Regions from separate parts of the Homo sapiens genome. Here region 2 is linked to region 1. Evidence: fine-mapped expression QTL. A gene starts in region 1. The other region holds a variant in brackets. All regions are shown on one strand. Distances are between the middles of the regions.

Evidence for each region. PIP is the estimated chance that this variant, and not a neighbour inherited with it, causes the effect.
Region 2: its variant is the best candidate, but not a certain one, in a credible set for the expression of CAPN15 in skeletal muscle (FUSION, PIP 0.83).

The regions. Positions count from the first base shown.
Region 1 is chr16:522,482-534,877 of GRCh38, forward strand. It overlaps CAPN15 (calpain 15), which reads left to right and starts at 5,231. Exons shown (of 14, transcript NM_005632.3): 1 at 5,231-5,548; 2 at 11,465-11,517. It overlaps LINC00235 (long intergenic non-protein coding RNA 235), which reads right to left and starts at 4,926. Exons shown (of 1, transcript NR_024121.1): 1 at 4,366-4,926. It overlaps RAB11FIP3 (RAB11 family interacting protein 3), which reads left to right. Exons shown (of 14, transcript NM_014700.4): 14 at 1-530. RefSeq lists an enhancer at 3,790-4,351.
Region 2 is chr16:500,408-512,803 of GRCh38, forward strand. RAB11FIP3 (RAB11 family interacting protein 3) reads left to right here. Exons shown (of 14, transcript NM_014700.4): 7 at 2,597-2,690; 8 at 5,117-5,220; 9 at 10,253-10,393. Among named protein-coding and RNA genes, the nearest start is that of LINC00235, 21 kb to the right of the region's middle. The variant T/C (reference allele first, on the strand shown) is at 6,394.

The DNA of each region.
Region 1 (12,396 bases):
CGCAGAGGCCGGCTTCTTCCTCCAGGGGGGCCACAGGGTGGGGTGGGAGTCTTCTGGGCCTGGCCCAGCTTCCCTCAAGGCGTCCGAGGCCATCAGTTGTCTGAGCTCAGAACCCAGCAGACCTGCCTGGCTCTGCAGCTTGGTCAGACTAAGACCCTTCCAAGGCCGTAGGATTGCACCTCCAGGCCCAGTGGAGCCTGGCAGCTTTCCAGCCAGGTTCTGGATCCTGACGAGCTGCTGAGACAGCATCAAGGTGGGGCAGGTGGGGCGGGGCAAATTGGGCAGCACAGGGCTGTGTGGGCATCAGGGCTCTGGGTCACACGCCTCTGGGGACGTACGTCCCATGTCGGGAGAGCCGTCAAAACGTCCCCGGGATTAAGAGAAGAGTGGGGGGCAGGGCGCAGAGGCTCACGCCATAATCTCAGCACTTTGGGAGGCCAAGGCAGGAGGATCGCTTGAACCCGGGAGTTCAAGACCAGCCTGGGCAACATAGCAAGGCCCCATCTCTAAAAAATAAAAAATTAACCAGGCATTGTGGTGCGCACCTATAGTCCCAGTTCCTTGGGAGGCTGAGGTGGGAGAATTGCTTGAGTCCAGGAGACGGAGGTTACAGTGAGCTGTGATCACACCGCTGCACTCCAGCCTGGGCGACAGCGAGACCCCATTTCAGAAAGAATTTAAAAGGGCAGTGATGTGCAGGGTGGTGGGAGGACATCCCCCAGAAGAGGGGGCAGACACAGTACCAGCACCACAGGCACGGGAAGGTGAGGAGGCAGGTCCCGACGGAAGTGGGCTCCCGAGGTCATGGGCAGCCAGGGAGTCTGAGAGAGCTCAGTGCCACTGCAGCCACAAAGAATGGCCTGCGGGGAGTGGTCCCATCTGATCAAGAGTCCCCCAAAAACACAAGCCTTGAAAACTGGACCACCTGGTCCAGCATCCAGGAAGCGGACTGTGCATCTGCGGCTCTCGCTCTCCCGCCCCCCGCGCGAGATGCCCGCCTGCCTGTCACTCTCAGATGCAGATGGAGATGGAGAAACCAAGGCCCAGGGAAGCTGAGGACCCAGGTCTGCCAGTCCCCTCAGCCCAGCTGCTGCTTGCGGGCTGGTGACCAGAAGAGGACCAGGCGTGGCCTACAGTGAGGAGTCCTTGAACCCTCAGTGCAGGTGCAGCAGAATGGTTCCAGGTCACAGGGCCCAAGAACCCTGATTGCTTCATGAGTTAGAACTGAGGAGTGACAGGCCGGGCGCGGTGGCTCACGCCTGTAATCCCAGCACTTTGGGAGGCCCAGGCAGGCGGATCACAAGGTCAGGAAATCGAGACCATCCTGGCTAACATGGTGAAACCACGTCTCTACTAAAAATACAAAAAAATTAGCCGGGCGTGGTGGCCGGCACCTGTAGTCCCAGCTACTTGGGAGGCTGAGGCATGAGAATGGCGTGAACCTGGGAGGTGGAGCTTGCAGTGAGCAGCGATCACGCCACCGCACTCCAGCCTGGGCAACAGAGCGAGACTCCGTCTCAAAAAAAAAAAGAACTGAGGAGTGACATGGGCGGTGTGGGTGTGTCCAAGGCCAAGTTCCTCCTCCCAGGAAAAAGACCTGCTCTCCCACCTACCCAGGGGTCTGTGTGGTGCCAGTAAGACCCATCTCTGCCTAGAGGGAGAAGCTGGAGGTGGGGAGGGGAACTCACTCCACGCTGCCAGGCCAGAGCCAGGGAGGGGAAGGGGAGCAGCTTCCTCCTCCTGATACCCCACTGTGGTCTAGGAGCACCTCAGTTTCCACGCTAGATTTTAAACATGGGGCTGTCCACAGTCCAGCTGGCCCCACCTCGATGACCCACTGGGGTCTCCAGCCCAAAGGAGTTTGAGACAGGAGGACACAGGATGAAATGGAAACATTCCCGGAAGGGCTGCCAGAGACCTTGTGGGTGAGCGAGAGCAGGGTGGGGTGGCCGGTGTGCATGCCTGGTGGACGTGCCCAGAAGCCTGCACCCCCCAGGAGGCCCGAACGTGTCCCTCTGGAGTGTCGCCCCCACCCCCAGCTGTGCAGTGGGATGGTCACTGGGCCTGCCAAGTCTCCCAAGGCAGATCCTGTCCCCAGCTGGCTCCTGACATTGAATGTTCTGAGTCTTGGTCAGTTCTGCCCGATGGAAGAGCACCAAGGAGTCTTGCCCGGCAGGATAGAGAGGAGCGGCTCTGCCCCTGCCCTGGAACAAGAGCCCCGGACGTGGGTGCAGAGCCCCTCACATGAGGACCGCCCCATCCTGCCTCTGCTGAAGGGCAGGTATAGGAAGGCTGGACCCCCTCAGCGGCCCCCCGGATGTGGGTGCAGAGCCCCTCACATGAGGACCGCCCCAGCCTGCCTCTGCTGAAGGGCAGGTATAGGAAGTCTGGACCCCCTCAGCGGCCCCCCGGATGGCACCCTGGCCCCTCTACCTGCTGGCAGTCCAGTAACCTGGAGGTGGTGGCCCAGAGAAAGGCGGGAACTTCTCCCAGGGCCCCGTCCATTGTTATTTTCACCTGTCCGGCCGCCCATTCTTTTTTTGAGACGGACTCAGTCACCCAGGCTGGAGCGCCATGTGCCATCCCAGCTCACTGCAGCCTCAACCTCCCGGGCTCAAGTGATGCTCCTGCCTCTGCCTCCCAAGTAGCAGGGACCACAAGCACACACCACCACACCCTAATTATCTTTTAAGTGGAGACAGGTTTCGCTTTGTGTGTTGCCCAGGCTGGTGGTCCGTCGTCTTTTTGACCCAGGCCTGTGTGGCTCACAAAGCAGGCAATTGCAGGGTCATCCCATCAAATCTGAGCATGGCACCAGAGCACACAAGTCAGCCACCTGCGGGCCTTGGCACCCTCGTGCTCCACGCCAGGGTCCCTGTGTGCTCAAGTCTGGGCTCCATGATGGCACTGGGGTTTGTTCTGTTTGCTGCTTTGTGCGCGTGAGGCTTTCTCTGGGTGCCTGAACAGATGCCTCCAGTTTCAGTTCTTTCTGTTTGGCCCTCCCCATCCTCTTCTCCTCCAGGGGGGATTCATGGCTCGCCTCTTGGCTCTTCTGGGCACTTGGCGAGCTTCTGCGCACTTGCGTTAGCTGCTCAGGTCTGTCTGGATGTGAGAGTCGTGTCCTCAGGCCAGGAAGCACTGGCACGGAGCAGGGCTCGGTCAATGGTCTGGATAATCCAGAGTCACTTACCTTCTGCTGTGCAGTCATTTACAATTCACGCCTGTGTGCCTGATGTCTTGTGACTCAGAATCTTCAAGACAATCACAGGCTGGCCTCACGGAGGCACGAGTGACTCATTTCTCTCATCGCACCCATTCCCTCCAGCACTCTCCTTGTGCGGGGAAACCTCAGTCACCTTGAAGACGCCTCCTGAGGCCCTCTTCTGGGTGAATGGGCTTCCTCCTTCACCATGACAGGCTACTGGGGAGAGCTGGGGTGCTCCCACCCTCTCCTCACCCCAAATGGGCCTGGCCTAGCAAAACTGGCCAGAACTGGCCACTCTGCAGTGAGCTGGCAGGGCCCTCAGCATCAGATCAACAGGTTCAACTGCAGCTGCCTCTCTGGTGGGGAGGTTATAAGGCCTGCTGGCTAGACCACTGGCCCCTGGCCAGGGAGCCACCTAGGCAGTGCCAGGGAAGGACTGGGAAGGGAAGAGAACCTGCGGTCCCTGAGTGAGGCCTTGACTGCACCCTCTCCTGTGGTTCGAAAGCCACACTTGGCCAGTATCCTGCCATGCAGGTGAGGAAGCTGGGGAGGACAGGGTCCCAGAGCCTTGTCCAAGTTGCAGAGAGGAGAGCCAGCTCTCACTCTGCAGCCCTCTGTGCCCCCAGACCCCCACTGGCCCCCGGGGACACATTTCCTGCCCTTGGGATGCTTTGGCATGGATATAGTCTGGGAACAAACGGCACATCCAGCTGCCCTGCCTGTCTCCACAGAGGGGGCAGCAGACCTAGGGGGAGGTGTCCAAGACACAGGAATGAAGTGTCCTTACCAAAAGCTTCCGAGGACAGAAATAAACCCCTCCTGCCAGCTTCTGCACTGACTGCAGCTAGAAGCCGAGCTCCACGTGGGACACAGGTGTCCCTGCTGCGGCATCTCAGCATGACGGAGGCCCATCCTTGGCTTTCCTGGAGCATGAATATCCTCTGAGGAGCACTGGCCCTGGCCTTGTAGGTCTTGCTGAGACTGGCTTAGATTTTCTGGCCCAGGAGCAATCGTCACCCAACCTCCCACTTGTAAATCTCGCCACAGAATCGGCCCACAACCGTCTCTCCGGAATCTCGGCGGACCAGCCCTGCTCCTGTGTCTCCCTCTCCCGCAGAGCCACTGCCTTCTCAGGCTCCTCAAGTGCACCTAAGAGCGGGAGTCTGGCTGCCCTCAGCACTCGCGTCCCGCCCTGCAGCCTGATAAGCTTGACGCCAAGGCATTCTCCCGAGAGCCGGCCCAGCAGCTGCTGGCAGGAGAGTGGCCTCAGGGCAGCGGGAAGGGGACCTCCGGGGAGAGAATGAGGCCTGCGCAAGGGTCCTGGAAGGACCCAGGAGTCGCCCCGGCTTCCCTCCCCCAGGCCCTGGTTGGGCGCCGTGGGCCGCGTCCCAGTTGAGCCCGGCGTGGCCGTTTAATGGCGTCCCTCCGCGACCGAGGACGAAGGGGCCTAGAGAGGCTGTGCCCAAGCGACGCTGCGAGGCCAGGCCGCGTCTCGGGCCAGGGCGGTCCCCTTGCCACCGCCGCTCTTGGCCGCCAGGACCAAGCACAGCACGCAGCGTCGCGAAAGGGGCGGTCCTGGAAGGCGCGAAGGGGTCTCCGGGTCTCGCGAACACGGCGGGGTCGGGGCGGAGTCGTGGGTCCTCGGTCGAGCGGCCGCCCAGAGCCCCGCGGGACACGGACGGCCCCAGCCCGGCTCCCCGCGAGCCCCACGCGTCTGTGACGCCGCTGATGCGCAGACGCCGCGGCTGCAGGCCCCGCCCCTCCGTGCCCCTCGCAAGGCCCTCTGGGAGTTGTAGTTCCAGCTCCTCCTCGGGCCGCCCCACTCCCTGATAATCCTGGAGCGCGGCGCCTCCCGGGGACCGAGGCCTCGGGCCCGGCCGTCTCCAGCAGCGAGGGCAGGAGAAGTGGCCCGGGCGGTCGGCGGACTGGGAGGGCGCCACCCGAGGACTACAACTCCCGGCCTGCCTCGCGCAGGCACCGCCCCGAGCTTCCGCCCCGTCGGCGCCGCGCAGCCCTGTGGGAGCCGTAGTCCGGGCGCGCGATTCACAGCGCCGCGTGCGCCCCGGGCGCGCCGTAGCCGCGGGGCCCGGGCCGGGCGCTACGCTACGAAGGCAGCGTAAGGCGGGCGCCGGACGCGGGCAGGGGCCGGGGCCGGAGCCGGGTCGGGGCGCCCCGCGGCTGAGGAGCGGGAGGCCGTCCGGGCAGCGCGGCCGGCGGCGAGAGGGGCCCCGCCGCTCTCCGGAGGCAGAAGTTGTGGATCGGCCGGCGGGGGCGAGCGGGCCCGGGGGCCGGGGCCGCGCTGCCCGGGCCGCGAGGACGAGGCGGCGCCGCCGGGCTGTGGAGGTGAGTCCCGTCGGCCGGGCCCGGCCGGGCGCCCAGCCGGGGACCCCGGGCGGGGAGCGCGGGCCCGGAGGGCGGCGGGGAGCGCGGGCTCGGCGGGGCGCAGGAGGCCTCGGGGGCCGGGCGCGCCGGGCTCCGAGCCAGGGCAGGGACGGCAGGGCCCCCGGAGTGGGGTCAGCCCGCCGCCCGCTGGCGCCTCCAGGCTGGTGGGGGCCAGGGCTGGGCGATGCTTCGCAGAGGAACCCAGAGGAAGGCGGGAAGTCGGCAGGGACCTGGGCCATGTGGGTCACTTGAGGCCAGCCCCGGGGGCCGCGCACACCGGAGGCGGCCTCGGCCCTGCCTGCCCTTGAGTGCCCTTATATCCGGGCCCATCGTGCGGTCCTGGCCGCCTTAGGGATGTTGTGCTTGGTGCGGGCATCACTCCCCTCACTTGGGGAACGGCCTGGGGGCGGCCACCTGGCGTGGAGGGGCTGGCGGGAGCCCCGTCTGTGCCAGCCATGCCAGTGTTCTCTTCCGTGTTCCTCTGGGGCTGCTGCGGCACCAGCTGGGAAGTTGCAAATCTGCTGTCCTCCCGCTGGCTGCAGAAGGGGCCCCTCTAGTCCTGACCGGGGGAACTCTTGTGTGGTCAGCTGGCCCTGGCCGGGCGAGCTCTCGGGGCCCCCTTACTGCTCTGGAGTTTGTTACCGGACTGCAGGTAACAAGACCCGGAAAGCAATGGTGAGGCCCAGAACCTGAGGCCAGGCCTGGGTGTGTGGGGCCAGTGGGGAAGACTGGGACTCCGTTGGGTGCTGAAGAGTTGTGTGCTTCTCCTTCGGGAAACCCGGATCTCTTCCTCTGCCCAGGTCTGAGGGGTGCGGAAACGTGAGTCACAGTTCAGTGTGGGAGTGCCCCGTAATTGCCTCCGCGTTTCCAGAGTCTGGGGCTGGGCAAGGATATAGGGGTGATTCTCCCTTCCGGTTCTGAGTGACTTCTCAACTGTGAAGTGGGGCAAGAGAAATTGTTTTTCTGGCCTGTCTGGGGGAGGCAGGTCCTGCAGGAAACCAGCTTGGCCTGGCCTTGGGTTGGGTGTGCCTTGCCTCCTCCGAGGTCCTTCTGCTTGCGGGAGGAGCACCCCTCTTTTTCCTGCTTCTGTCTGTGTCTGAGGCTCTCCAGAGCTCCTTGATTGGCAGAGGAGCCAGTGACCTCTGAGTCCCCAGGAGAGCCCGAGGCTCAGTAACTGCATAACTGCGCAGGGCCTCTTGTCTGGGCCTCCACAGACCGTGGTCTCTGAGAGCAGGAAGTGGCTGGTCCCCTGTAATGCTGCATCTGTGTGACAGCCTCAAGCCCTGCTGGCTCTCTCTCCGGGCACCCCTCACTTGCTTCTTGCCCTGGCCTTGGGCAGCACTCCGGTAACCCCAGTGCCACAGGTGAGGAACCGAAGCTGGAGACAGCTGTTCATGGCAGGGGAGGGGCCGAGGGAGGCTGAGCGCCTGGTCTCTCCCTCCTGCTGGTTCCACCAGTTCACACGAGGCAATTGGAGGGAAGGATTCTGCTGCCCGGAAAATCCTCCGGAACCACAGGTGTTGTTCATGGGCCTGAGCCGCTCAGTGAAGAACTCGGCCGTTGGTGGCCGAGTTGCCCCTGGTCCAGCCCTCTGGCCCGCGGTGTGATGCCTCTACTCATGGCAACAGGCGTGGACAGGTGCTGAGAAGGAGGACGACATCATTAAACAAAACAGCTTGGGGTCTTTGAAAAACAGTGACAGAAACCCAGGAAGGCTGGTGACTTGTCAGGTCTGTGTCTGTCCTGGGTGGCCACTCGGCCCTGGACCGTGAGGCTGAAATGACAGGAGACACGGAGGGTGGGCTTGGGTGGTTTCCTCATAAGACACAGAAGAAGGAGGCCCCCAACCCGGGGGCTGCCTCGTGCGCTTTGCTCTCCTGTTTTCCTGCTCTGTCCCTCTGGTCCTGCCCTCTGACCCCTGGCACAGCAGGAGTGCCCAGAAGCCCAGTGGGACTTGTTCTCTGCCTAAAGCCCTTCCGCATCCCTCGTACCCACTCGGTGTGGATGTGGGTTTTCTCACCACCAGGCTGTGCCTCAGCTGTGTGGAGCCACTGGCCTCTCATGCCCCACGCTGGAGAGAACGCTGAGGTCTGTGCGGTTCTCATGTGACCCTGTAGCTGGTCCCTGGCTCCCCACTGTGGGATCTGCCTGCAGCACTTACACTTGGGACCGCCCTGTCTCCCTGCTGGATGTGGCGCCGAGGGCAGGGTCCGTTTCTGTTTCTTGGTAGGCCTAGTGTCTAGCGCTATGCAGCCGTGCGCAGAGCAGGCGGTCAGTGAGCACCTGGGGTTGGCCCTCACCACAGGCAGTTCTGAATACCTGGGTTCTGGCAGCCCAGGGGGACTCCTGCGTGCTCCAGGAAAGTAGCACAGCAGCCCCTGTGGCGTGGACACGGCCACACCTGAGCTCGGCCTGTTTCTGAGTCTGAGAGAACAGGCTTGCTGGCCTGTGATCTTTGCATGTGTGTCTCGCTGCAGGGAGGCTGTGGGTTGGGGCTGGACCTAGACCCGTTCAGCCACACCCTGTCACTATGTGGGTCACACACAGCTGGGTGGAGACCTCCCGGTGCGTGGCCCAGGGAGGTGTCTGGGCGTGGAGTCTGTGGACAGCCACATTGTACCACTAGGACAGGGGCTGCTGCTGGGCCCACAGGGTGCACGGAATGGGGTCTGTGGGAGGATGGGGGCATCCTAGCCCAGGGCAGGGACCCCGTGGGCCCCCCAAGATGAGCTGCGTCAGGCTGTTGCTTTGCACACTCTGAGGGGCCTGCCTGAGTGCTGCATGGGAAGCCAGCAGTGTGGCCGCCCTCCCCAGAACTCATCCAGGGCACCAGGGTGGACCCATGAGTCCCGTCGGGTCATGGGCATCAGCCTCGCCATCCTGGCCTCCAGATACAACGATTTGTCAGATTCCCTGAGGTCAAAGGGAAGCTTCAAGGGTTGCCATCCCCGCCTCCCTGGCGGTCCTAGACGGGATGTCAGGAGGACGCAGGGCCATCGCTGCTTTTTAAATGTCACAGTGACTGCAGCGTCTGCTCCTCTGTGGAAGGAGCTTGCTCCGCTAATGAGGGAGTTCCTCCTCATGGCCTTCCCCTCACTTCTCTTCAAAAAGTTGCCCTTTATTTTAACATTTTTTAAGTTTTATTTTTTTGAGCCAGGGTCGTGCTCTGTTGCCCACGCTGGAGTGCAGTTGCAATCATAGCTCGCTGCAGCCTCAAACTCCTGGGCTCAAGTGATCTTCCTGCCTCAGCCTCCCAAATACTGGGACTACAGGTGGGCGCCACCACACCCAGCCTCTGCCCTTTGTAAGTGAAGTCCCCCAGGCAGGTTGAACCTCTTACACCTTCTGCCCCTGCCTGATCCCCACTCCCTACCCCCCACCTCCCTGTCCCCTGTAATGAGAAAGGCAATAAGTTTTGGAGCTTTCTGGAGTTCCTGCCCCTCCTGAAAAGGTGGCTGCAGAGAGGCTGGAGCTGATGGGGAAAGAGGTGCCACGAGGCCTCCTCTGGGTTAGGGCCACACGGCTCCCAAGGCCCCCGTCTCCTTCTCTGGGGTGACAGGTGCCCCCAGGGCCACACGGCTCCCAAGGCCTCCGTCTCCCTCTCTGGGGTGACAGGTGCCCCCAGGGCCACACGGCTCCCAAGGCCTCCGTCTCCTTCTCTGGGATGACAGGTGCCCAGGGCCACACGGCTCCCAAGGCCCCCGTCCCCTTCTCTGGGGTGACAGGTGCCCCCTGTGTCCCAGAGGCTTCTGCTTGGCCACCAGTGAGGTCACCGGGCTGCCCAGACCAGGGCTGCTTCTGCCACCACATGGCAAGCAGAGAAGTAGAGAAGTGCCAAAAACCACGAGTGCTTGTCTGGTCCTTTTTTCCTGTTAAAAATAGAAGTCGGGGCTGGGTGCGGTGGCTGACACCTGTAATCCCAGCCCTTTCAGAGGCCGAGGCAGGTGGGTTGCCTGAGGTCAGGAGTTCGAGACCAGCCTGACCAAAATGGCGAAACCCCATCTCTACTAAAAATAAAAAAATTAGCTGGGTGTGGTGGTGTGTGCCTGTAATCCCAGATACTCAGGAGGCTGAGACTGTAGAATTGCTTGAACCTGGGAGGCGGAGGTTGCAGTTAGCCGGGATGGCACCACTGCACTCCAGCCTAGGCGACAGAGCTATACTCCGTCTCAAAAAAAAAAAAAAGAAAAAAAAGTAGAATTCGGTTGGGCTCAGTGGCTCATGCGTGTAATCCTAGCACTTTGGAAGGCCAAGGTGGGTGAATCACATGAGGTCAGGAGGTAGAGACCAGCATGGCCAACGTGACGAAACCCCCATCTCTACTAAAAATACAAAAATTAGCTGGGCGTGGTGGTGTGTGCCTGTAATCCCAGATGTTTGGGAGGCTGAGACACTAGAATTGCTTGAACCCGGGAGGCAGAGGTTGCAGTGAGTCGAGATGGCACCACTGCACTCCAGCCTAGGTGACAGAGTGATACCCTGTCTCAAAAAAAAAAAAAAAGCCAGCCGCTGTGGCTCACGCCTGTAATCCCAGCACTTTGGGAGGTCAAGGCGGGTGGATCACCTGAGGTCAGGAGATTGAGACCATCCTGGCTAACACGGTGAAACTCCATCTCTGCTAAAAATACAAAAAAATTAGCCGGGCCTGGTGGCAGGCGCCTGTAGTCCCAGCTACTCGGGAGGCTGAGGCAGGAGAATGGCGTGAACCCAGGAGGTGGAGCTTGCAGTGAGCCGAGATCACACCACTGCACTCCAGCCTGGGCAACAGAGCGAGACTCTGTCAGAGAAAAAAAAAAAAAAAACAGGTGATGCCTGTGCCACTGGACACACCTGCACACCATCCTCATGCTGATCACAAAAGAGGGTGAGGGGCCGGGCATGGTGGCTCATGCCTGGAATCCCAGCACTGGGGGAGGCCGAGGCGGGTGGATCACCTGAGGTCTGGAGTTCGAGACCAGCCTGACCAACATGGTGAAACCTCGTCTTTACTAAAAATACAAAAATTAGCTGGGCACGGTGGCGGGCGCCTGTAATCCGAGCTACTTGGGAGGCTGAGGCAGGAGAATAGCTTGAACCTGGGAGGCGGAGGCTGCAGTGAGCTGAGATTGCACCACTGCACCCCAGCCTGGGTGACAGAGCGAGGCTCTATCTCAAAAAATAAAATAAAAAATTTAAAACCAACAAAAAAGAGGGTGATGGCTGAGTGAGGAGTCCATGGTGGGCCCTACACAGGGCCCAGGAAGGACAGGGCGGGAAGCGTGAGCATCCTGCCCACCGCAGTGGGTCCGCCATGGAGAGCATGACCTTAGAGAAGCAAAGCCGCCTGGCTCGAAGCAGTGGCCGCCCTGCTGACAGCTGTAGTGGCCGGGTGGCACTCGGGCTGGGGTCCGGGGGAGTCTAGGTGGCCACCTGGCTGTGTGCCTGTGCCTGCCCAAGCTGGGCACCTTTCCCTGGCAGTGCCTGGGAAGCTCGGCCGCCCTCCCTGGCTGGTGCTGCTCTGCAGCCCCGCTCATGGACTCTTGCCCACGGCCTGCTCCTTGTAGCAGGGTCGGGCCGTGGGAGGTCCGGACAGGATCTTGAATGGCCCTGTCTGCGGTCCTGGCTGGCCGGAGGTTGACCGCACTGGACAGGTCAAGGGCCTTAAACCAGGGTAGTGAGGAGCCTGCTGAGCCCCTGCTGCTCCCCGGGCTGCCTTTGGCGCTCGGACAGACACCCAAGGACAGAAGCTCGGACAGCTTCTAAGGCGAAGGGTCTCCCGGGGCTGATTTCCCGGGACTCTGGCTCCTGCAGAGAGGGCTGGAGGCGGGGCTCTGTGTTCCAGGGTCAGAGTCCTCCTGGTGGAAGCTGAGGTGCCTGATTAAATGCCTCCCTTTCTAGGCAGCAGCCCAGACGCGGCACAGAGAGGGCCTGGGAGCTTGCTGCAGCTTCAGGTGAGTTTGTTCCCAAGCCCTGCGGCTCGTTTATGGGTTTGCTTGCGCTGCAGAACTGTTTGTGGAGCAGCAGGGTTGGAGTGCCCACGGCTGGGGGGCCTCTCGGAGCCCTTGATTCACAGAACCCCTGGAGGCCGGCAGCCCTGCCTGCCCTGAAGAGCCTCGTTCTCCCAGCCGTTTGGGCCGTGGTCCTGTCGTGGGAGGCGACGGTGAGGGCGGCCCGGGGTCCCGACAGGGGTGTTTGTCCCTTTGGGGACCTCCCCTGTGCTGTGGCCCCGGCCCCCAGATGGAGCTCCCCATCCCCACGGCAGCGCTGGGGCTGGGGCTGGTGAGGAGCCTGTGCACGGCCCCCACCGCTATCCTCAGCCAGGAGGGTGCCTGGTCCCTGGGGAGCGGCCTGCACCTGTTTCTGGAGAATGCTGTCCTGCCAGTTGTCATTTGGGGCGGGCGGTCGGAGTCCACGTCCTCCCCCAGGGCGGGGCCCTGGCCTTGTTTCTTGTAGGGACGATGGGAAGCCCTGTCCTCAGCCCTCCCACCCGACTCATGCAGGAGCTTCCTGTCCTTGGGGTCATCTCCTCCACAGGGGCCTTAGCGTCAGTGGGGACAAAGGCAGAGTTGCCTGTCTTCAGGTTGTGGGCACCGACTGAGCTTCGTCCCGGTAGTGGCTGGCTCTTGTTTCCTGCCTGGACCAGCAGCCTCTGGTCTGGTGGGTGCAGTTTTAGGGCGCAGTGGGGTTGCCGTGGGGCAAGGCCAGGCCACCAGCTGCCTGGACACAGGGGCCCCCGCTTTCCATCTGCTGCCCCCCACACCCCCAGCTCGGGCAGGGGTGACACCGGGGCATCCTTGTTGGGGTCGCTGTGGTTCCCATGGTGGCAAGAT
Region 2 (12,396 bases), 22 kb before region 1:
CGCGGTGGTTCACGCCTGTACTCCCAGCACTTTGGGGGGCCGAGGCGCACAGATCACGAGGTCAGGAGTTTGAGACCAGCCTGGCCAACATAGTGAAACCCCATCTCTACTAAAAAAAACAATACAAAAAGTTAGCTGGGCATGGTGGCAGGTGCCTGTAATCCCAGCTACCTGGGAGGCTGAGGCAGGAGAATGGCTTGAACCCGGAAGGCAGAGGTTGCAGTGAGCTGAGATTGCACCACTGCACTCCAGCCCAGGTGACAGTGCAAGACTCTGTCGCAAAAAAAAAAAAAAAAAAAAAAAAAAAAATTAAATAAGTAAATAAATAAGCAGCCGCATGACCCATGCTGAGGACCCTCTGCCTCACGTTGGTGGCCACGTGTGGTGGCTGCACGCTGGGTGCCTGGGGATGGCTGTGTCCCCGAGTCAGCCCCAGAAGTGCCTACGCCTCTAGGACAGCTCAGAAGTGCTGACAGGTCGTGGCCTCTCAGGATGGGCTCTGGGTTGCAGCTTCATGCCTGGAGTGGCTCATGTTTGGGGGCAAGGTCATGGGCGTTTAAGAGCAGCGACTGGCCAAGAACATGATCTGTATCAGCAGCAGCTTTTGAGAATCTGATGAAATCCCCAGAGCCCCAGAAGGGCACCGGTGTGTTCCAGCTGGTGCACGTTCACAGGGCTTGTCTCCTCAGAGCGTTTATGGGGAAAAAGATGGAAATGTTCAAGCCCAGTCCGTACTGAGAAGCAAATCGAACTTCATACACTTGGTAGACATTTTCAGTGGAAAAATATTAACATTTTATGGAATTCTTACTCTGCTACGTCCCTAGCCAAGCTGTTTGTATGCATGACCTTGGTTAAACCTCAGTTGCCTCTAGACCCCCATTTCATAGGCAAGGAAGCTGGGAGAGGGTCCCCCCATTTCATAGGCAAGGAAACTCGGAGAGGGTCCCCCCATTTCATAGGCAAGGAAGCTCGGAGAGGGTCTCCCATTTCATAGGCAAGGAAGCTGGGAGAGGGTCCCCCCATTTCATAGGCAAGGAAGCTCGGAGAGGATCCCCCCATTTCATAGGCAAGGAAGCTGGGAGAGGGTCCCCCCATTTCATAGGCAAGGAAGCTCGGAGAGGGTCCCCCATTTCACAGGCAAGGAAGCTGGGAGAGGGTCCCCCATTTCATAGGCAAGGAAGCTGGGAGAGGGTCCCCCCATTTCACAGGCAAGGAAGCTGGGAGAGGGTCCCCCCATTTCACAGACAAGTTCAGAGAGGCTCCCCCCATTTCATAGGCAGGGAAGCTGGGAGAGGGTCCCCCCATTTCACAGACAAGTTCGGAGAAGGTCCCCCATTTCATAGGCAAGGAAGCTGGGAGAGGGTCCCCCCATTTCACAGGCAAGGAAGTTCAGAGAGGGTCCCCCCATTTCACAGACAAGGAAGTTCGGAGAGGATCCCCCATTTCATAGGCAAGGAAGCTGGGAGATGGTCCCCCCATTTTATAGGCAAGGAGTCTGGGAGAGTGTCCCCCCATTTCATAGGCAAGGAGGCTGGGAGAGGGTCCCCCCATTTCATAGGCAAGGAGGCTGGGAGAGGGTCCCCCCATTTCATAGGCAAGGAAGCTCGGAGAGGGCCAGTGCTTTTTAACGGTCACGCAGTTCTGAGCATCAGGCTGTCAGCCTGGAGCCTGGCTTGGTACTGAGGTTCCCAGGATGTATAAAGAACTGAACACGCACCTTTGCTGTTGGCTCTTCTGTGCGAGTGCTCTGAGAGTTTTCTGTACTCCCGGCAAGTTTGGGTTGGTACAGATTCACCACAGCGAATCTGACCACGTGGTGACCACAAGCACGCGCTTACTGCGCGCCTAAGTTCACACTCCCTGGAGAAGCTCCTGCCCCAAGGCCGCAGCCTATGGGCCTTTGCGTCTACTCAGGACCATGAGGCTGTGTCCCCGAGCCTGGCCCGGGTAGTAACTGGCATGGCCTGCGGTGCTGGGGGCGTGTCCACAGGAGCTGGTGCCACAGAGGACACGTGTGTCTGCTGTCTTCCTGGACTCGGTCGGACCAGTTTCCCAGTGTGTCCGTGAGGGTGACACTGAGTGAGACTTCTGGGATCCACACCTTTCCTGGGACCCTCACTCTTCCTGCCACAGAAAGCACCTGTGAAAGTCTGAGATCAAGAATGTGCACAGGGGAGGTGTCTGCAGGTCAAGGTCCTGAGCTGATGTCTCACAGGCCTCTGGTAGAGACGAGATTGTTCGTGTCTCTGCGAAGAAGGGCATGTTTTATTGCAGCCAAGTACAAAGTCCTCTCTGCCACTCGCTGGCTGGGACTGAGGTCATGTTCTGTCAGGTTCCAAAGAGCGCCAGGAAGACTCTGAGACCACAGAGCACGGCCTGCTTTCTCCCAGCCCCTGGTAAAGATGTCCAGCCTGGGACCTCCCCCTGTATATAGTGCTTTAAGTGGGAGAAGACCACCACCCAGATCAGGGGAGGACCTGTCCCCTGCAATGCTGCTGCCTGCTTTTCAGATTGACTTGGGAGTGCTTGTGCTGACGGAGCATGTCCTGTGGTTTTTCCCTTTCTTCCCTCTGTTGTTGTGCCTTTTCTGTAGGTACCTGCACCAGTCAGGGGCCCTGACCATGGAGGCCCTGGAGGACCCTTCCCCCGAGCTCATGGAGGGCCCAGAGGAGGACATTGCTGACAAGGTAGGCCCTGGAGGGCTGGGTAGGTGGCAAGTAGGGGATTTAGAACACAGCCACGCCTAAGGGCCGCTGCAGACACCCCGGGAGGTGGGGACAGCACAGCCGGAGGTGACCCCATGTCCTCCAGGGCTCCCCAGACTGTCCATCCAGCCCCGATGCTCTTTGGCAGGTTTCCCCAAGGGGTCTCGTGGCCATGTGAGAAAAAGGAGTCTTCCTGTTGTGCACGAAGGGCCAGCTGGGAGGAGTGGACTGGGCAGTGAGTGAGCACCCTCGGGTATCCCACCCCCACTGTGTCTGAGTCGGGCTGGGGGACACCCAGACATTCAGTCCACCAGGCCCATGGAGACGCGACCTGGGGCACCCATGATTTGGGAGAAAAGGGCTGGCCCTGCAGTTACTGCAGAGCCAACAGCCTGAGGAACGGGCTTCTCCTGGGGCCTTGAATGGAATGGGTGACAGCAGCCAGGGCAAGGCAGCCTTGCCGTGGTCAAGACCCGCTTTTCAGCCAGATGTGGTGGCTCACGCCTGGAATCCCAGCACATTAGGAGGCCTAGGCGGGCAGATCACTTGAGGTCAGGAGTTTGAGATCAGCCTGGCCAACATAGTGAAAACCCGTCTCTACTAAAAATACAAAAGTTAGCCACGCATGGTGGCGGGCAACTGTAATCCCAGCTATTTGGGAGGCTGAGGCAGGAGAATCACTTGAACCTGGGAGGTGGAGGTTGCAGTGAGCCGAGATTGCACGACTGCACTCCAGCCTGGGCGACAGAGGGAGACTCCGTCTCACCTTCTGCACCCCCTCACCTTCTGTGACCCCTTCACTTACTCCTGTACCCCCTCAATTCCTCCTGTACCCCTCATCTCCTCCTGTACCCCCTCACCACCTCCTGTACCCCCTCACCACCTCCTGTACCCCCTCACTACCTCCTGTACCCCCTCACTACCTCCTGTACCCCCTCACCTCCTCCTGTACCCCCTCACCTCCTTGTGTACCCCCTCACCTCCTGTACCCCCTCACCTCCTCCTGTACCCCCCCACCTCCTCCTGTACCCCCTCACCTCCTCTTGCACTCCCATCTCCTCCTGTACCCCCTCACCTCCTTGTGCACCCCCTCACCTCCTGTACCCCCTCACCTCCTCCTGTACCCCCTCACCTCCTCCTGTACCCCCTCACCTCCTCCTGTACCCCCCTCACCTCCTCCTGTACCCCCTCACCTCCTCCTGCACTCCCATCTCCTCCTGTACCCCCTTACCTCCTTGTGCACCCCTCACCTCCTGTACCCCCTCACCTCCTCCTGTACCCCCCTCACCTCTTCCTGCACTCCCATCTCCTCCTGTACCCCCTCACCTCCTTGTGCACCCCTCACCTCCTGTACCCCCTCACCTCCTCCTGTACCCCCCTCACCTCTTCCTGTACCCCCTCACCTCCTCCTGCACTCCCATCTCCTCCTGTACCCCCTCACCTCCTTGTGCACCCCTCACCTCCTGTACCCCCTCACCTCCTCCTGTACCCCCCTCACCTCTTCCTGTACCCTTCACTTCCTCCTGTACCCCCTCACCTCCTCCTGCACCCCCCTTACCTCCTGTACCCCCTCACCTCCTCCTGTACCGCCTCACCTCCTCCTATACCCCCTCACCTCCTCCTATACCCCCTCACCTCTTCCTGCACCCTCCTCACCTCCTCCTGCACCCCCATCTCCTCCTGTACCCCCCTCACCTCCTGTACCCCCTCATCTCCTGTACCCCCTTACCTCCTCCTGCACCCCTCACCTCCTGTACCCCCTCACCTCCTCCTGCTCCCCCACCTCCTCCTATACCCCCATCTCCTCCTGTACTCTCTCACCTCCTCCTGTACCTCCTCACCTCCTCCTGTACTTCACCTCCTCTTGCATCCCCACCACCTCCTCCCTACAACTTCTCTAGCATCTCAAGTCTGCTGACCCAGGCCAAGTCCTCCTCTGCTCCCTTCACTCCTTCTCCTACCTCCGCAGGTGTCTGATTCTCATCTTGGTGTGAACTCTCTGAGGGAGGGACCGAGACATGGATCTGTCTGTCCCTTGCATCCATGGGCACCTGGGCTGCCTCTGTGAGCTGCATCTGGCTGAGCAGAGACCCAACTGTGTGTTGGGGGGCTGAGTCTTGCTGCCCACCAGCCAGCCAGTCCAAAGGCACCCCTGGGCCCCGAGCCCTCAGAGCTGCGGCACTGTGTGCATTTGTGGGTCGAATGACAGTGCTCCCCAAGACCCCGGCCCCATTAGGAGCTGCACCTTTGTGGGTTTATGGGACAAGTTGGATCCAACACCAGCCTAGCTAGGTGGATCTGATTCTGTGCTGAGAAAATCCCCAGGCGGCCTCCCAGGTTGTTCCCTTGGGGGTGCAGGCCCTTCTGCTTCTGGCTGCCTGACCCTGAAGCCTGGTCTCATTGCCAAGGTTGTCTTCCTGGAAAGGCGTGTGCTGGAGCTGGAAAAGGACACGGCAGCCACCGGTGAGCAACACAGCCGCCTGAGGCAGGAGAACCTGCAGCTGGTGCACAGGTGAGCCTGGGCCAGGAGACCCGGGCCTCTGCGTGGCGCCTCCTGTGCCCGCCTGTCAGCCCCCATTTACTTCTCTTTACCTCACACAGCAGGGGCTTGGCCACCCGTCCATCCCCGTTGGAAGCCGGCTGAGGGGGTGGTGCCAGGTGGTCATCTGAGCCTACCCAGTGGGCTGCAGGCAGGCGACCCGAGGCTCTGACTGGTGCTCTCATGGAACCCTAGACACACAGAGGGCCAGAGGAGGGCACTGCCTCCCTCTCGGGAGCGCTGAGACCTGACCCACACAGAGGAGGAACTGACTGCGAACCCACGCAGTGCTCAGCCTCACCAGCAGGCCTGGAGGTGCAGCTCTCCCACCACTCTGGTCCATACGGGGTTTGCCCGTCCTGGAAGAATGCAGGTTAGAGAAGTCGCTCAGCAGCAGAAAGCGAAATGAGCAGTGACTGCTGAGTACGCGACAGGACGCGCAGTCTCATCGCTGTGGGCAGGAGTGCTGGGGAGGAAGCGAAGTGTGACGCCGTGTTTGCAGAGAAAGAGTGGGAGCTGCTTGCCTCACTCTGGTTTGCAGACTTTTCTTAGAATACCGTGTAATTCTCGGTGTTTTTCACACGAGGCACGCCATGTTGTCTCATAGCCGATTTGCAGGACTGTTTCCGGTGCAAAGTAAGATGAGCTTGTCCCAGGAGTCAGCTACCCAGGCTATGACACCTGTAGCTGGGCACCGGCAGCCTCTTGTGGGCAGAGGAGGCAGCCAGGAGGCCTATGAGGCACCTGTGGGATCTGCAGAAGAGGTTCTTCCTGTGAGCTTCTGTCCCTGCCCAGCTGCGCGGGCACATCCCGGCTCTTCCACATATTCTCAGCTCGGCCAAGGGCCCTGTCCCTTGAAGCTTCAGTGTCTTCATCACCACTGAGCAGGTAGATTCAGGGCTCTGAGCAGCCTGCACACACGTGTGTTGGCAGCAGGGCATTTGTGGTCAGCATCCCCAAAGCCCCCAAGCCCTCACCCTCACGGTACTAACATTTGTGACCATCTGCCCTGTGAGCGCTGAGAATTGGAATGCCTCATGGGATTGTGGGCATAACTTGCACATCATTTTAATTCTAACAAAGCAAAGCATGTGCTCTTGTGGAGTGAAGACCCTGGGCTTGGCGGCTGCCCGTTCTCCAGGATTC[T/C]CAGCAGAAGAGGGCCTGCTACCAGCCCCTGCTGCAGAGTGGAGAGGGGCCAGGCATGCTGGTGAAGGGGCTGGACTCCCGTAGTGCGCTACACATAAGCAGTGCCACCAAAGACCACTGTCTCCTCCTTGTCAAGGAGAATCCGGGGGGCTGCCAGATGCACTTGTTTTGTTTTGTTTTTTGAGAGACAGGGCCTCGCTCTGTTGCTCAGGCTGAGTGCTGACTACAGCCTCCACCTCCCAGGCTCAAGCGACCCGCCTCCCTCAGCCTTCGATGTAGCTGGGACTACAGGTGTGCACCACCACACCCAGCTTTTTTTTTTTTTTTTTTGAGACGGGGTCTCTCTCTGTCTCCAGGCTGGAGTGCAGTGGCGCAATCTTGGCTCACCGCAACCTCCGCATCCCAGGTTCAAGCGATTCTTCTGCCTCAGCCTCCTGAGTAGCTGGGACTTGCAGGCATGCACCACCACGCTGGGCTAATTTTTGTATTTTTAGTAGAGACGGGGTTTCACCATATTGACCAGGCTGGTCTTGAACTCCTGACCTTGTGATCTGCCTGCCTCAGCCTCCCAAAATGCTGGGATTACAGGCGTGAGCCACCGTGCCCGGCCTAGTTTTTAATTTTTTTATAGAGATGAGGTCTTGCCATGTTGCCCATGCTGGTCTCAAACGCCTGGCCTCAAGCGATCCTCCCACCTTGGCCCCCCAAAGTGCTGAAATCAGAGGCGTGAGCCACCATGTCCAGCCTAGATGCCTTTGTCGAGTTGACTGTGGAGGTTTCATTTGAGTCTGGAGTATGTTCATCTGTTTTCCGTGTGTGTGGTGTGAAGTCCACACTGCCGCCTGGCACCACCCACTGACCGTCTGCAGTGCAGCCCCGGCCACATTCAGTTCCTGTGGCTGTTCCCTGTGGTGCTCACCTCCAACGTCCTAAACAACACGTTTCCCGTTTTCAGTATCATCTGCCCGTTCTGAGCCATTTGCTCTCTAGCCCTACCATACAGCTGCCATCCTAAGAGTACGTTTCCCGTTTTCAGTATCATCTGCCCGTTCTGAGCCATTTGCTCTCTAGCCCTACCATACAGCTGCCATCCTAAGAGTACGTTTCCCGTTTTCAGTATCATCTGCCCGTTCTGAGCCATTTGCTCTCTAGCTGTGCCGTACAGCTGCCATCCTAGGAATTCCGAGTGCTTTCTCCTGTGTTTGATTCCTTATTTTCTGGGTCCCACGTTTTCTTCTGTTTTGCCAACTCATTTTCTGAGTATGTCACTGATAGTTGCCTGGAAAAGGGAGCACAGGAGCCAGATGCTCTGAGAACTGCTTGTGTGGAAGTGCTTTTTCCTCCCACCCTGCTCCAGTCCATAGTGTAGCTGGGCATAAAATTCTAGGTCAGAGATCGAATTCCCTGAGAATGTGAAGACCTCTGACCCGGTGCTGTGACTGAGGAACCTCTGGTGCCGCAGGGCCTTGATGTTCTCTGTAACTTCTGTTTCCCACCCTACATACTTGGAGGAGGATCTTGTATTATTTGCCGTGCTGTGCACCTGGTTTTCAGCCTTTATTTCGTTTTGTTTTGTTTTGTTTTGTTTTTTGAGACAGAGCCTTGCTGTGTCACCCAGGCTGGAGTGCAATGGCACAATCTCCGCTCACGGCAACCTCCGCCTCCCGGGTTCAAGTGATTCTCCTGCCTCAGCCTCCCAAGTAGCTGGGATTACAGGCATGCGCCACTGTGCCCGGCTGATTTTTGTATTTTTAGTAGAGACGGGGTTTCACCATGTTGGCCAGGCCGGTGTTGAACTCCTGACCTCAAGTGATCCATCTGCCTCGGCCTCCCAAAGTGCTGGGATTACAGGCATGAGCCACCGCGCCTGGCCTAGGTTTTCAGCCTTTAAATCTGGAAAACGCGTCCTTTCGCTGTGGGAAGACTTCTGAAGTTATTTCACCATGCGGCCTCTCCCTCTCATCTGTCTGAACATCTGCTAGTCACACAGTGGGCCTTCTGGATGTTTCCTCTCCTTTTTTAAACTTTCCTCGTCTCTAATTTTATCTTTCTGTTCTTTTTTTCTATGTAATATTCTCAGTTTTCTCCTTCAACTCTTGATCAGATCTTTTTTTTTTTTTTGAGACAGAGTCTCACTCTGTTGCCCAGGCTGTAGTGCAGTGGTGTGATCTCTGCTCAGTGCAACCTCTGCCTCCTGGGTTCAAATGATTCTCGTGCTTCAGCCTCCCGAGTAGCTGGGACTACAGGCACCTGCCACCACATCCGGCTAATTTTTGTATTTTTAGTAGATTCAGGGTTTCACCATATTGGTCAGGCTGGTCTCGAACTCCTGATCTCAGGTGATCTGCCCGCCTCTGCCTCCCAGAGTGCTGGGATTACAGGCGTGAGCCCGGCATCTCAATCGGACTTTTAAATTGTCCTTCCCACGCTTTCAGTTCCTGGGAGCTGTTCCTTGTTGTTTGTCTCTTCTGCAGCAGGCTGCCCTGACGCTGCAGCTTTGGCTCTCTGCTCGCGGAGGCCGCTGGCTCGGGGACCTTTCCCTGCTGTCTGCTGCATCATGTGTCTCCCTGGGTCCTCACTTGGTGTTTGCTTTGGCCACTTCCTGTTGAAAGCTTTCCTGTTGTGTCTGGTGATCTTTGGCCATCTGTTCACTCCTGCGTGTGAGGCACCACAAGGATGAGAGGCTCTGTGCGAGGCAGGGCCAGAGGGCGTGGGCTGTGCTGTGTCAGTGGGCAGGGCCTGTGCCCTTCTCTTTGGGATGGTTCAGTCCTGTCTCCTGCGGATGGTTGTGAAGATCTCAGGAAGGCCAGGGTCTCCCTGCCCTGTGGGAATATTCCCTTTCCCCTGTGGTCTAGCTGACACCTGCCCTGCCTCTGCTCTGAGGTGACCTGGATGGGACTGGTCTCTATACCCACTTCCCCAGCCTGGAGGGGACTGGGAGCAGAGTGGGCCCCCCCCCCACTTGTGGCCCCTCACAGCCTCTGGGGCCCGGATGTGCCCAGCTGCCAGAGCCAGACTCGTCCTGGCTCCCATGTGGACCTGGCATCTCAGGAAGCCTCGTGAGCACCTTTGGGTGATGTGCCATGAACTGACTGTACTGCAGCTGAAGGCAGACTCCGCCAGCACACTCAGTTCTCTGGTGTTCAGCTGCCGCGGACCACGTGCTCATCAGACACTCACTTCCTGGAAATGCTGTGGCCCTTGGGCCCTGGCACCTCCACGCCCCGTCCCGAGGCCCCGTGCCTCTGGGCTCTGAGCGCACGCGTTGTGTGTAGTGGCCCTGGCACCTCCACGCCCCGTCCCGAGTCCCCGTGCCTCTGGGCTCTGAGCGCACTCGTTGTGTGTAGTGGCCCTGGCACCTCCACGCCCCGTCCCGAGTCCCCGTGCCTCTGGGCTCTGAGCGCACGCGTTGTGTGTAGTGGCCCTGGCACCTCCACGCCCCGTCCCGAGGCTCCGTGCCTCTGGGCTCTGAGCGCACGCGTTGTGTGTAGTGGCTGCAGGTGGAGCAGCTGCATGAACACAGAGTGCACCAGGAGAAGTTACCTGGCGGGCTCAGGCCCTCTGAGTGCTGCGGTCCACAGGCCACAAGCGGGCAGTGCCTGTGGGTATCAGCTGGGCCTAGGTGCAGTGGACACTGCTCCGGCCACCCCAGGTGCCTTTAGTGTGGGAGGCGAGGCCATCTGGGGGTGTATTCGCTGCTTCAGAACTGCCTTGACCAGAGCTCGGGGATGCCCTTCTCGGTGCCCTACTCCCGAGTGGAGGCAGGTTCTCTGGAGGTCCTGAGGCAGCTTCTGGGCATGGGTGGAGCCACTGCACACCCTGCCTGGAGACAGCTCAGCTCCTCCCTTTGCCTTTCAAGAGCAAACGCCCTGGAGGAGCAGCTGAAGGAGCAGGAGCTGAGAGCCTGCGAGATGGTCCTGGAAGAGACCCGGCGTCAGAAGGAGCTCCTGTGCAAGATGGAGAGGGAGAAGAGCATTGAGATCGAGAACCTGCAGACCAGGTAGGCGGTTCCCAACAGCCCATCCACCCCAGAACCTGCAGGCCAGGTAGGAGACGGTCCCCAACAGCCCGCCAGCCCCAGAAACTGCAGGCCAGGTAGGCGAGGTTCCCGACAGCCCGCCAACCCCAGAACCTGCAGGCCAGGTAGGAGAAGTTCCCCGAAAGTCCGCCAACCCCAGAACCTGCAGGCCAGGTAGGAGAAGTTCCCCGAAAGTCCGCCAACCCCAGAACCTGCCGGCCAGGTAGGAGAAGTTCCCCGACGGCCCGCCAACCCCAGAACCTGCAGGCCAGGTAGGAGAAGTTCCCCGACGGCCCGCCAACCCCAGAACCTGCAGGCCAGGTAGGAGAAGTTCCCCGACGGCCCGCCAACCCCAGAACCTGCAGGCCAGGTAGGAGAGGTTCCCGACGGCCCGCCCACCCCAGAAACTGCAGGCCAGGCAGGAGAGGTTCCCGACAGCCTGCCCACCCCAGAAACTGCAGGCCAGGTAGGAGAGGTTCTTGACAGCCCGCCCACCCCAGAAACTGCAGGCCAGGCAGGAGAGGTTCCTGACGGCCCGCCCACCCCAGAAACTGCAGGCCAGGTAGGAGAGGTTCCCGACAGCCCGCCAACCCCAGAACCTGCAGGCCAGGTAGGAGAAGTTCCCCGACAGTCCGCCAACCCCAGAACCTGCCGGCTAGGTAGGAGAAGTTCCCCGACGGCCCGCCAACCCCAGAACCTGCAGGCCAGGTAGGAGAAGTTCCCCGACGGCCCGCCAACCCCAGAACCTGCAGGCCAGGTAGGAGAAGTTCCCCGACGGCCCGCCAACCCCAGAACCTGCAGGCCAGGTAGGAGAGGTTCCCGACGGCCCGCCCACCCCAGAAACTGCAGGCCAGGCAGGAGAGGTTCCCGACAGCCCGCCCACCCCAGAAACTGCAGGCCAGGTAGGAGAGGTTCTTGACAGACCGCCCACCCCAGAAACTGCAGGCCAGGCAGGAGAGGTTCCTGACGGCCCGCCCACCCCAGAAACTGCAGGCCAGGTAGGAGAGGTTCCTGACGGCCCGCCAACCCCAGAACCTGCAGGCCAGGTAGGAGTAGTTCCCTGATGGCCCGCCCACCCCAGAACCTGCAGGCCAGGTAGGAGAAGTTCCCCGACGGCCCGCCCACCCCAGAACCTGCAGGCCAGGTAGGAGAGGTTCCTGACAGCCCACCCACCCCAGAAACTGCAGGCCAGGCAGGAGAGGTTCCGACAGCCCGCCCACCCCAGAACCGGCAGTGGCTAGGAATAACCTGAAAGTTTAGAAAAAGGGGCAAAGCTATGTGGAGAAGACTTTGAAACTCTCCCAAAGACCACAAGGGATCGGTTCAAAGACTGACCCTGACGCTGTGCGGGTGCTGGTTTCTGTAAATCCATGTCTAACCAACGTATCCAGTCTTTTTAAAATACCAATCTTTTTTTTTTGGGTGGGGGTGGGTGGGTTTGAGATGGAGTCTTGCTCTGTCGCCCAGGCTGGAGTGCAGTGGCGCGATCTCGGCTCACTGCAAGCTCTGCCTCCCGGGTTCACGCCATTCTCCCGCCTCAGCCTCCCGAGTAGCTGGGACTACAGGTGCCTGCCACCACGCCCGGCTAATTTTTTGTAATTTTAGTAGAGACGGGGTTTCACCGTGTTAGCCAGGATGGTCTTGATCTCCTGACCTCGTGATCCACCTGCCTCGGCCTCCCAAAGTGCTGGGGTTACAGGCATGAGCCATCGCGCCCGGCCTTTTTTTTTTTTTTTTTTTTTTGAGACCAAGTGTCACCCTGTCGCCCAGGCTAGAGTGCAGTGGGGCGATCTTGGCTCACCACAACCTCTGTCTCCTGCGTTCAAGCAATTCTGTTGCCTCAGCCTCCCTGGTAGCTGGGGCTAGAGGCTCACACCACTGCACCCAGCTATTTTTTGTATTTTTAGCAGAGACGGGTTTCACCATGTTGGCCAGGATAGTCTTGAACTCCTGACCTCAGGTAATCCACCCGCCTCAGCCTCCCA